Linked DNA regions of Homo sapiens. The protein of the gene in region 3 purifies or fractionates together with the protein of the main gene of each other region. This does not show direct contact. Each region holds a gene or a part of one and is shown on either strand. Other genes may lie near its edges. The genes, in order: LRRC8D, TMEM63B and NKAIN1.

Region 1 (3,651 bases), about 59 Mb from region 3:
TTGTGAGAGGTGCTTACTTGAGGCACTTTAAATTAAAACAGGAAATAAATCAGTATTTCAGCAAATCTAAATTTACAAGTTTGGACTTGATGTGTTTGTCTTTAGTGAACGGAGTTAAAGCAATATTGCACCAATTAAGCAAAGTAAATTAAGACCCCTCAAAAAAGGTGATATAGTAAGAAAATGTCAATTTAATCATTTACTTTAGCAGGCAAGCAATTTGTAAACATTCAGTAGCGGCAGCATCCAAGTTACAAACAATTTAAAAAGAACCAAGATTAGTGATTATAATTTTTCCTTCCCTTTCCCCAAAAGAAAAAAAAAAATGATTTGGAAATGAATGACTTAAAACCCTACAAACATTGAACATTCAGTTATGTCTTCTATCAGCCTTCTATGCATCCTCTCTGTTTTATTTTAAAAGATGTATCTACTCCTAAAATGCATTATCTTGTAATAACTTGTACGTGAGCACTTGCAATCTAGGAAGTTGTTCCTGCACATCACTGTGCATATATTATCTTAGTTTAAATCCCATTTGCAAAGGGAATATTTATGTCTTGATTCAATGCCTCTTTGACTTCGAGTGGCAGGGTATCAAAAAGGTGATCTTCCACAACAAGCCCGCTTTTCTTGAGCATCCGACACTGGCCCAGCTGGGCTGGCAGGCGGTCCAAGCAGTTCCCCTTCAGCTCCAGCTGAGTGAGCTGGGAGAGCTGACCAACTTTCTCTGGGAGTGAGGTGATGCAGTTCTGTCCCAGATTCAAAGTCCTCAACTTTATGCATTTAAACAATTGTTTTGGCAGAATGTCCACTTTGTTCCCAGTGATATGCAAATGCTGCAGGTTCTGAAGCAATCCTATTTCTATTGGAATCATTGAAATGTTGTTGTAGCTCACATCTAAGCATCTGAGTTTCTGTAAACTAAATACTGCCACTGGTAAGGATTCGAGCTTGTTGTTAGAGAAATAAAGTGACTCCAAGTTTTTGACATGGGTAATAGAGGGAGGAATAGTAACAATTTTGTTATGCCATAATTTTAAACAAGTCAGTCGTTTTAAATGCTGGAAACTGATGATTTCCTCAATTGTGCGAATGTTATTGGACTTTAAATCCAGTTCCTGTAAATTAGAGAGGCTGAAAATAGCATGTGGGATTCTCTCTAGCTCACAGTTCTGGAGTTCCAGCTCAGCGACATTCATCATTTTCTTAAGGCTGTTCAGTACCAAGAGTTTAGTGCCGTCATTATGAATGACTAACTTTGTAAGATGTGGAGCCACATCTGTAATGTTGGAGGGAACTTTGGTCAAATTGCTCTTCACGTGGAGAATCTTAAGGTGCCGCAACTCTCGGAGAGATTCAAGTCCTATCATCTTATTGTTTTCAGAGTTCAAATTGCCTATTAAGTACAACTCTCGAAGGTTTTTGAGCAAATACACCCAGGCAGGAATTTCAGCCACATCAGTGAACTTCACGTGAAGGCATCTCAAGTGATCGCGAAGAAAGCTAAAAGCAGTCTGTTCAACTTTTGCAGGGCAGTGGCAGAGGTGGAGCTCTTGGAGGTTAGTCATTTGAGAAATCTTAGCAGGAATTTTAGCTTCTGGAATTAGTTCAAGCTTTAGCACATCCAGGTCTGTGAGGTCAAAGACAGCATCGGGCACCCCCGACAGCATGAACAGATGCAACTCCTGCTTGTCCTGGGCGTTGCGTGAAATGTGCTGCCTGAGTTTTTCAAATGTCCACTCATGGTTCAAACTAATTTCCCTAAGTTTATTTTCACTAACTTCTGACAAGAACACACCAAAACGCTTGGAATATAGCTGGTCATACTGGTCTACCATGTGAAGAAGGAACGCAAAATCGTTTTTGACATCTGGAATGTCACTAAAACTGCTCTCTTCTCTGACTTTTTCGAAAGAATATTCCTTCAAAGGTATCCTGAATAACCAGAAGAGAGTGTAGAGGCAGATAAAGCCATAAACACAAATAATGGATATGTAACTGATGAGAAGCTTTTTCAACATGTAAGCCATATTGTGGGTGCACTCAAATACCTCATAACCAATCAGATGCTCAACTTTGGGCTTGCAGACGTGTTCAAAGCTGATTGCGTTGACAAAGTTCGCTGTATAGCAGAGAATAAAAATGAACTTGGCTGTTTTGATAACTGTTTGGACCACATAGAGTTTATAGATCAAGTCACTATCTTCCACATGGGCACGGAACTTCCTCACTTTCTCAAACAGGGCTTTGGCCTGCTCTCCATCCTTTTTATCCAGGATTGTCATGCTGGGAACTTCAATCACAGGCTTCTCAGCTGAAAATTTAAAGCCAGTTTTATTGATCATTGGTGTACTGGCACTGGGGCTCCCTTCATCACTGCTGGTAGAAACATGCTTTGGTAGAGTCTGGGCACCTGTTATTCTCTGCTTGTTTTCCTCTGAGTCTTCGCATGCTGTCTCAGACAACGCTTTTGTCGTCCAAGGGGATTCAAAGCACTTTCCTAATATTGAAACAAAATGTTCTACTTTTGAGCATGTTTTGGGATATTTGAACCAAAAGTTGCTACTGACCATGAGAATAATAGTATGTATAAGAGCTAGGTATGGAAAGTACTTAGAATACCACGGAAGGGCCAGATGGTAACACATTTGATTAATAAATACATATTGCTGAAAATCCAAGTTTGTTTTTCGACCTGTTGGATCTTTCTTCTCTTTCTTTGCCTCCTGATTTGGAAGTGCGAAATCTGTGCGAGGATATGTGGCTCTGAGAGGTATGTCAGGTGTCACAGCAGATGTCCCAAAGGAAATGTCGTTTGTTGTCCGCCCATCTTGGTCTTGGTTGGTGGCTGCTTCCATCTTTGGGATGTTGGTGGTGACCTCGGCATTTCCTGGTGGTGTATGTGCCTTTGAATTTACAGGAGATGGCAATACTGGCAAACAGACCACCTGATCTTTGGTAAGTTGCATGGTTCCTGCAAAGATGGCTACCATTAACATAACAACAGCTAGGTAATCCATAAACACATCCCACCATGGTTTCAGGATTCGGTAAGTTGGCTGAATGTCATTAAGTGATGCAACTTCCGCAAGGGTAAACATTCCTAGAAAACAAGAAGACAAAAGACATTATTCTAGAGATGCAAATGAAAAGAGTAAATGAGAAAAACCCTATGCCTGCTCCTAACTAAAGTTTTCTCATTCAGGTCCTATCTTTTTATCCAATATAAATGTAGTAGAAAATAAACTAAAAGGGGAATATACAGCTTTTCTCTCCTAGTGCAAGGGAAGAGGGAAAGAATGAGTAAGAATTGCATTCTAGGTAAGAAATTATGACAGACTGCACCAAGTCCATAGTGGTTACTTAGTGGACCTTGAAGGAGGGTATGACAGCAGGATGGCATTTGTTGTGGACTCATTAAAGGTTAAGACTGAAATTTGGAGGTCAAGGAGTGGGATGACTCTTATTTTGTATAAGCCAAAATTGAAAGGTCTGTGTATACCATTAAATACCGTTAAACTTTGGATAGTCTTATGTTCCAGACTTAGTTCTAACACTTACTAATGGTTGATTCCTTAAGCCTTGTGTATTTCCCATCTGTATAATAGGGATGAAAACTTCTAAGGGTTGTTGGAAAGGTTAAATTAA
Region 2 (3,651 bases), on a different chromosome or scaffold from region 3:
CAAACCCAGAAGTCCTACTATTTACTTGACTTCCTACTCTGACCCATCGTCGAACCTAAGCCAGTTATATTGAGTTCAAAACTCTAACCAAATGAAATCATGCCATTTTTTCTAATAGGCATAGAAAGAAAAGATCAGGATGAGGCAGCTGGCTCCTGACCCATTCTCCCCTGACGTGGAGACCCCTCATCTTACCCTTGAGTCCTCAGGCCTAAGACCCCTCCCTGTCTTCCCAGGCTCAGCTCCGCCCCCTGCCCTAAGACAGAGAGAATGAGAGTGTGGGGGTGGCGGCGGCAGGGGGGATTTAGATAGATGTTAGAAAATCACAGATACCTTCCAGCTTAATGAAACCAGCCTCCCCAGTCCAGGCCTGGCATCTAGACTGAGTTCCCCAGACCCAGGGTGGGGTCATAGCCAGAGAGCCAGTGAAGGTAAATCCATGTGACTCAACTCTCCCCTCCCTAGGCCCTTATCTCCAGAGGCCAGAGCTTCCATCCACCCAGGCAGCCTGGTGATCTGTCCTCACTGCCCCCTCCCCACGCCCACCCTACTGGGCCATGAAGGGGATGGGGGCAAGCCCAGCTGACTGCTCCACCCTCTGCCCAGGAGGACCATGCGGCAGTAGCAGCCATGCTGCCCTTTCTGCTGGCCACACTGGGCACCACAGCCCTCAACAACAGCAACCCCAAGGACTACTGCTACAGCGCCCGCATCCGCAGCACTGTCCTGCAGGGCCTGCCCTTTGGGGGCGTCCCCACCGTGCTGGCTCTCGACTTCATGTGCTTCCTTGTAAGTGCCTGCTGCCACCCCTTACCTTGGCATCCATGCCCTGTACACACCTGGCAAACACTTCCAGCTCTAACCACTCTCCCACCTGCCCCGGTTTCCCAGGCTTAAGCAGGAGGAGTCCCCATCATCCAGCCCAAGCCTCGCCTTTGACCATTCACCCAAGCCAGGGTCATCCCCTTCTAAGACAAGATTTTGGACCCTCTGCTTCTGCCCCCTAGTCCAGCAGGTGGACAGACAGCCTCTGCACTTGCCAACTGCCCCCTCTTCCCTCAGGCACTGCTGTTCTTATTCTCTATCCTCCGGAAGGTGGCCTGGGACTATGGGCGGCTGGCCTTGGTGACAGATGCAGACAGGTAAGGGTCTGGGACCCTCCCTCTAGCTCTCCACACACACATCTTGTTCCACACTCCTCAGGAATAGGAAGGAGCCAGCCCTCTCTCATTCCCCTTTGCTGGGGGGATGAGAAGGGACTAGCCCCAATGTGGGCATGGGGGCATGAGGGCCCTAAGTTGGGCCCCTGTTCCTCACCTGTCCCCAGGGACTCTCCCCCGCCCCTGCTAACCCTGTCTGTTCTCTGTCCCCAGGCTTCGGCGGCAGGAGAGGGACCGAGTGGAACAGGAATAGTATGTGGGGCACCAGCCCCCTCATTCCCACTAAACCAGCTTTCCCTTTTCTTCTCTCACGCTTCTCTTCTCTTCCTGCCAAGTTGCTGGTTTCTTTTTGCAGTTTTCTCCTCTGCAGGCTCATGTTTCGGATTAACGCAGGCGGTGTGCTTTGCAGAGCAGGGGGCTCCCCAGCTTGTCTCTGCCTCACCTCCCCTTCATCTCTCCCTCTGGCTCCCTGCCTGGGAGAAGTCCCTCCCTGTGTGCCCCTGCCTATGCAGCCCTTGTTGGCTGGAGGGGAGGGGCTGTCCTCCAGGAAATCCTCAGCACAATCACGTAGAGACAAGATTGGGTGTCACCAGCAGCTTCTTGTCCGCTAACAGCTAGTTCTTCATATTCCAGGGTTCCCTGCTCACCTCTTCTGGAGGCCTGGGAGGAGGGCTGCCCAAGGAGCCCCCCAGTCTGGGCTTTTTTGTCACTTTGTCATCTCTGTCTATAGGATTGGAGTTGGAGTTGTAACAGCTGTTGGAGTCAGGGAAGAGGGAGGGGAGCGGAGGGTAGGGTCCCACCCAGGAGACCTTCCAGTCTCCCCAGCCCTTCCAGGTTCTCCTGGTCCATCCTTTCCTCCACCTCCTCATTGCTCTTTGCATAATGTTGGCTCCGTTGCCCGCCCCCGGCCCCTGCCAGTCAACTCTGGAACTGCAGGGCCCTCTGGCATTCTCGCTTCAGCCTCCTTAGGGAGATGATGAAGATTACCTCCTCCCTCAAGTCCCCACTGCCCACCATCAGTGCCCACCTCCGCTCCCACCCTGAGTCCCCCTGAAAGGAAGAGGCATATTTGAGGGAAGCAGGGTAGAGGGCAGTCATTCCTCTCTGCTTCAGCCTCTGCGCTTCCTGTGCCTTCTGTGCCTTCTGTAGCCCTGGAGCTCTGGAGCACTCAGCCCAGCTTCCCGGGGGCTCAGACTCACCAGGCTCTCTGATCTCTCATCTCCCTCACCCCCAGTGTGGCTTCAGCTATGCACGGGGACAGCCATGACCGGTATGAGCGTCTCACCTCTGTCTCCAGCTCCGTTGACTTTGACCAAAGGGACAATGTGAGTGCCCTCCCCCCAAACTTCTTAGTCCCCCACCCCACCCCCAGGGCACATGGGCTGAGAAGTCCCTCACTTTCAGTGATGTGGAGTCAGGGATGCTGGTTTGGCCTCCTCCTCAGCAAAGAAAGTGATTCAACCAAGGAGCCACAGGATGACCCCCCAGGCCCTGAACTCCTGGCTGCTGTCCTCTATGTCACAGTCTCCAAACTAGCACAGCCTTAACATTCATGAATTCCCAACTTTGTTTGCCATAAAGAGTTTTGTGCCCACTTCTGCTGATTAATCCTAAGGCCACCTTTTTTCCGTAGTCATGGTTTTAGAAATAATAATAAGCCCTTGGCTCACGCCTGTAATCCCAGCACTTTGGGAGGCCGAGGCGGGAGGATCACGAGGTCACTAGATGAGACCATCCTGGCTAACACGGTGAAACCCCGTCTCTACTAAAAATACAAAAAATTAGCCAGGCGTGGTGGTGGGCGCCTGTAGTCCCAGCTACTTGGGAGGCTGAGGCAGGAGAATGGCGTGAACGCGGGAGGCGGAGCTTGCAGTGAGCTGAGATGGCGCCACTGCACTCTAGCCTGGGTGACAGAGCGAGACTCCATCTCAAAACAAACAAAAAAAAGAAATAATAAGCCCTCCAGCCCTGCCTAGAAAAACAGAATCTGTCATGTTGCTCGGAGGTTGCAGGTGGGTGGCCCCTGGCCATGTGGGGCCGGTTGACCTGCTTGTGGATTGGAGCTGAGTGGCAGTGGTCCCTTTTAACAAGGCATATGAATGGCAATTCATAACAGACTCCAGACCCCTTTCATATCAGACCTAACACACAGGTGTTACCTGCCTGGCTCTCCATCATTAATTCCATGAGGGTAAGGAGCCTAGTCAGAACTCTAATCCTCAGACATGGTGTGGCCCTGGTCAGTCCCTCTTGGGCTGCAAGTCCTAGGGGTGGCAGCTCTTCCAGCAATTCCAGCAGAAGATGGCCTTCAGCTTCCTGAGTTGGACTCATACTGGTAGGTGGCAAAGTTGTCACATCTGCTAGCCAGAAGTGTCCAGATGGTCCCCAGACTCAGGTGATGTTGGCAACAGGTAGCATGGTCCTGAATCACGGCCGAAAGGCACCTTTCTACCCCATCCTGTGTTATGTCTGGACCTTCTGCTGGATGGAG
Region 3 (3,651 bases):
CTGCCTGCAACAAGGTGGGCCAGGCAGCACCTCTTACCTCCACCTGGGAAGAGAAGGAGCTCATTACTGACTCAGAGCTGGAAGGGTCCTTTGAGATGATGAGTCCAACCTTTTCCCCATACAGAGCAAGAGAGAGGCCCAAAGAGGCCACGCCTTCATCTTGGAACCCCTCTTAGTGAGTGGCAGCCTGTGCCCACGGCTCTCCCTGCATTATCTCAGGTTGCCCTCATTATAGTCCTATGAGGTGGGTGCTATTATTATTCCCATTTTACAGAAGAGAAGACCACGGTCCAGCAATGCCAAGACCACACAGATGAAGAAGAACTGCTGCTCCAGCTTGAGCCTTCCATTCATTGAGAAAGGGGAGTCATCTCATTTCCTACCCCACAGTACTCGGATTGCAGAACCTGCAGCCTCATATCCTGGGCATTCAAGAGTGTACCCCCTTTGTGAGCTCCCACTCCACACGTTTTATTTCAAAGGAGCCTCCCAACAACTCTCTGAAGTAGATGATCATTATCCTGATTTAGAGAAGTGCAAGTGGAAGCTCAGAGAGGTTAGGTGTCTTCTTGCTCAAGGTCATCCAGCTACAAAGAGGCAAAGCTGGAACTCAAATCCCAGCCTGACCCCAAAGCCCGGGTTCTTCCCAGTTCCCAGTCCACCTCCTTGTCTCTGGATTTGTCAGCTGCTTTGAGAGGGGCCAGGAGGCCAATGTAAATCAGGAAAACCTGCAACCACACTTAACGGCTCTTCTAAAACCTTACTGCTCATTCAGTGCCTCTAGGGGAAGTTTGCTTTGCTCTCTGAAGCTCTCCCTCATCTGTGAATCAATCGACATCCCTCTCCAGGCCAGGGCAGGGAAAGCCAGGCAAAGCACTGGGACTTGGCTTCCTGGGCCTAAACCCAGCTCTCCCCCCATGGCCTGGATCTAGTGTTCAATTTAAAAAATGTTTTTAATTTTTAATTTTTGTGGGTTACATAGTAGGTATATATATTTAGGGGGCACATGAGATATTTTGATATAGGCATCCACTGTGCAATCGTCACATCAGGGTAAATCAAGCATTTATCCTTTCTTTGTGTTACAAATAATCCAATCATACTCTTTGGGTTATTTTTTTTTTTTTTTTTTTTTGAGACGGAGTTTTGCTCTTGTTGCCCAGGCCGGAGTGTAGTGGCACGATCTTGGCTCACTGCAACCTCCGCCTCCCAGGTTCAAGTGATTCTCCTGTCTTAGCCTCCTGAGTAGCTGGGATTACAGGTGCCCGCCACCATGCCCAGCTAATTTTTTGTATTTTTAGTACAAATGGGGTTTCACCACGTTGGCCAGGCTGGTCTCAAACTCCTGACCTCAAGTGATCCACCCGCCTCGGCCTCCCAGAGTGCTGGGATTACAGGTGTAAGCCACTGCACCATCCAGTTATTTTTAAATGTACAGTAAATTTCGTTGACTGTAGTCACACTGTTGTGCTATCAAAGACAAGATTTATTCATCCTATCTAACCATGTTTTTATACAACCTCCCCACTCCCCGACTACCTTTCCCAGCCTCTGGTAATCCTTATTCTACTTTTTTTTTTTTTTTTTTTAATAGATGCAGGGTCTTGCCATGTTACCCAGGCTGGTCTCCAACTCCTGAGCTCAAGCAGTCCACCCACCTTGGCCTCCCAAAGTGCTGGGATTACAGGCGTGACCCACAGTGCCCAACCTCCTCATTCTACGCACTATCTCCATGAGTTCAATTGTTTTTGTTGTTGTTTGTTGTTGTTGTTGTTGTTGTTTTTGAGACGGAGTCTCGCTCTGTCACCCAGGCTGGAGTGCAGTGGCGCCATCTCAGCTCACTGCAAGCTCCGCCTCCTGGGTTCATGCCACTGTCCTGCCTCAGCCTCCCGAGTAGCTGGAACTACAGGCGCCCGCCACCACGCCCGGCTAATTTTTTGTATTTTTAGTAGAGACAGGGTTTCACAGTGTTAGCCAGGATGGTCTCGATCTCCTGACCTTGTGATCCGCCCGCCTTGGCCTCCCAAAGTGCCGGGATTACAAGCGTGAGCCACTGCACCTGGCGAGTTCAATTGTTTTAATTTTTAGCTCACACAAATAAGTAAGAACATCTGAAGTTTGTCTCTCTGTGCCTGGCTGGAACTAGCTTTTTTTTTTTTTTTAATTTTTTTTGAGACAGGATCTCACTGTGTTGCCCAGGCTGTAGGGCAGTGGTGCAATCATGGCTCACTGCAGCCTCAAGCTCCTGGGCAAAAGCAATCCTCCCCTCTGCCTCAGTAGCTGGGACTACAGGTGCATGCTACCATGCCCAGCTAAGTTTTTACCTTTTTGTTTTTCTTTTTTTGAGACGGAGTTTCGCTCTTGTTACCCAGGCTGGAGTGCAATGGCGTGATCTTGGCTTACCACAACATCTGCCTCCCAGGTTCAAGCAATTCTCCTGCCTCAGCCTCCCGAGTAGCTGGGATTACAGGCATGAGCTACCATGCCTGGCTAATTTTGTATTTTTAGTAGAGACAGGGTTTCACCATGTTGGTCAGGCTGGTCTCGAACTCCTGACCTCAGGTGATCCACCTGTCTCAGCCTCCCAGAGTGTTGGGATTACAGGCATGAGCCACCGTGTCTGGCCTACTTCATATATATATATATATATATATATATATAGAGAGAGAGAGAGAGAGAGAGAGAGAGAGAGAGAGAGAGAGAGAGAGTGGGGGAGGTCTCACTATGTTCCCCAGGCTGGTCTCAAACTCCTGGGCTCAAGCGATCCTTCCACCTTGCCTTCCCAAAATGCTGGGATTACAGGTGTGAGCCACCGCACCTGGCCTGGAACTAGTTTTTAAAAATACACCTGTAGCCTTAGTCTGCCTTCCTGTCACCCATCTCTCCTTAATACTAGAGAAGAGTAGTTTGGGAGTCTCCTACCACATAGAATAAAAAAATACAAAATAAAAAATAAAAGGACTGACTAGAGGAGACAACATGTTCCAGTGATCAGAGCTGACTATCTCTGCTTGGTCCAGATTTTATAACAATTGTTCTCAAACCCTTTCCCCTTGATGACTACTCTGAGGCTCAGACTATTATCTCCTGTTTCCTTGGAGAGATGTCATTTTACCCTTCTGAGCCTCAGTATGTCCATCAGTTAATGGGTATAAAAACCACACCTATCTCATAGAGTTGTTATGAGGATGGATCACTTGTAGATACAGGTTACTTTATTCCCTGGTTTTCTCAATCTGTATCACAGCTCCTTGGCACACTGCAACCTCCGCCTCCCAGGTTCAAATGATTCTCTTGCCTCAGCCTCCCGAGTAGCTGAAATTACAGGTGCCCACCACCACGCTCGGCTAATTTTTTGTATTTTTAGTAGAGATGCGGTTTCACCACATTGGCCAGGCTGGTTTCGAACTCCTGATCTCAAGTGATCTGCATGCCTCGGCCTCCCAAAGTGCTGGGATTACAGGTGTGAGCTACCGCACCCAGCCGTGCATCACAGCTCTTTTAAGTCCAGCACAGAGCTTGGGGGTGGGTAGAATGGGGAGAGGGGGCATCTGTGTAAGCAGTTAGATCTGGCATCTGGTAACAAGCCCTGTGGCTGAGGAAAGGTTTGGATTTCTCCACCTGCTTCCACTCCAGCGTCCCACAATACTA

The links.
Region 1: the proteins of NKAIN1 (region 3) and LRRC8D purify together in Homo sapiens (affinity purification with mass spectrometry; one large-scale study listed by BioGRID and IntAct). This does not show direct contact.
Region 2: the proteins of NKAIN1 (region 3) and TMEM63B purify together in Homo sapiens (affinity purification with mass spectrometry; one large-scale study listed by BioGRID and IntAct). This does not show direct contact.

What each region holds. Positions count from the first base shown.
Region 1 is NC_000001.11:89,932,522-89,936,172, reverse strand, and holds part of LRRC8D (volume-regulated anion channel subunit LRRC8D), read right to left. Parts: intron 3,107-3,651; 5' UTR 3,105-3,106; coding exon 528-3,104; 3' UTR 1-527. UniProt on the Homo sapiens protein: Non-essential component of the volume-regulated anion channel (VRAC, also named VSOAC channel), an anion channel required to maintain a constant cell volume in response to extracellular or intracellular osmotic changes.
Region 2 is NC_000006.12:44,133,955-44,137,605, forward strand, and holds part of TMEM63B (mechanosensitive cation channel TMEM63B), read left to right. Parts: intron 1-465; exon of another isoform or gene 466-606; coding exon of another isoform or gene 607-630; coding exon 631-789; intron 790-1,062; coding exon 1,063-1,142; intron 1,143-1,373; coding exon 1,374-1,412; intron 1,413-2,394; coding exon 2,395-2,485; intron 2,486-3,651. UniProt on the Homo sapiens protein: Mechanosensitive cation channel with low conductance and high activation threshold. Osmosensitive cation channel preferentially activated by hypotonic stress.
Region 3 is NC_000001.11:31,229,765-31,233,415, forward strand, and holds part of NKAIN1 (sodium/potassium-transporting ATPase subunit beta-1-interacting protein 1 precursor), read right to left. Parts: intron 1-3,651.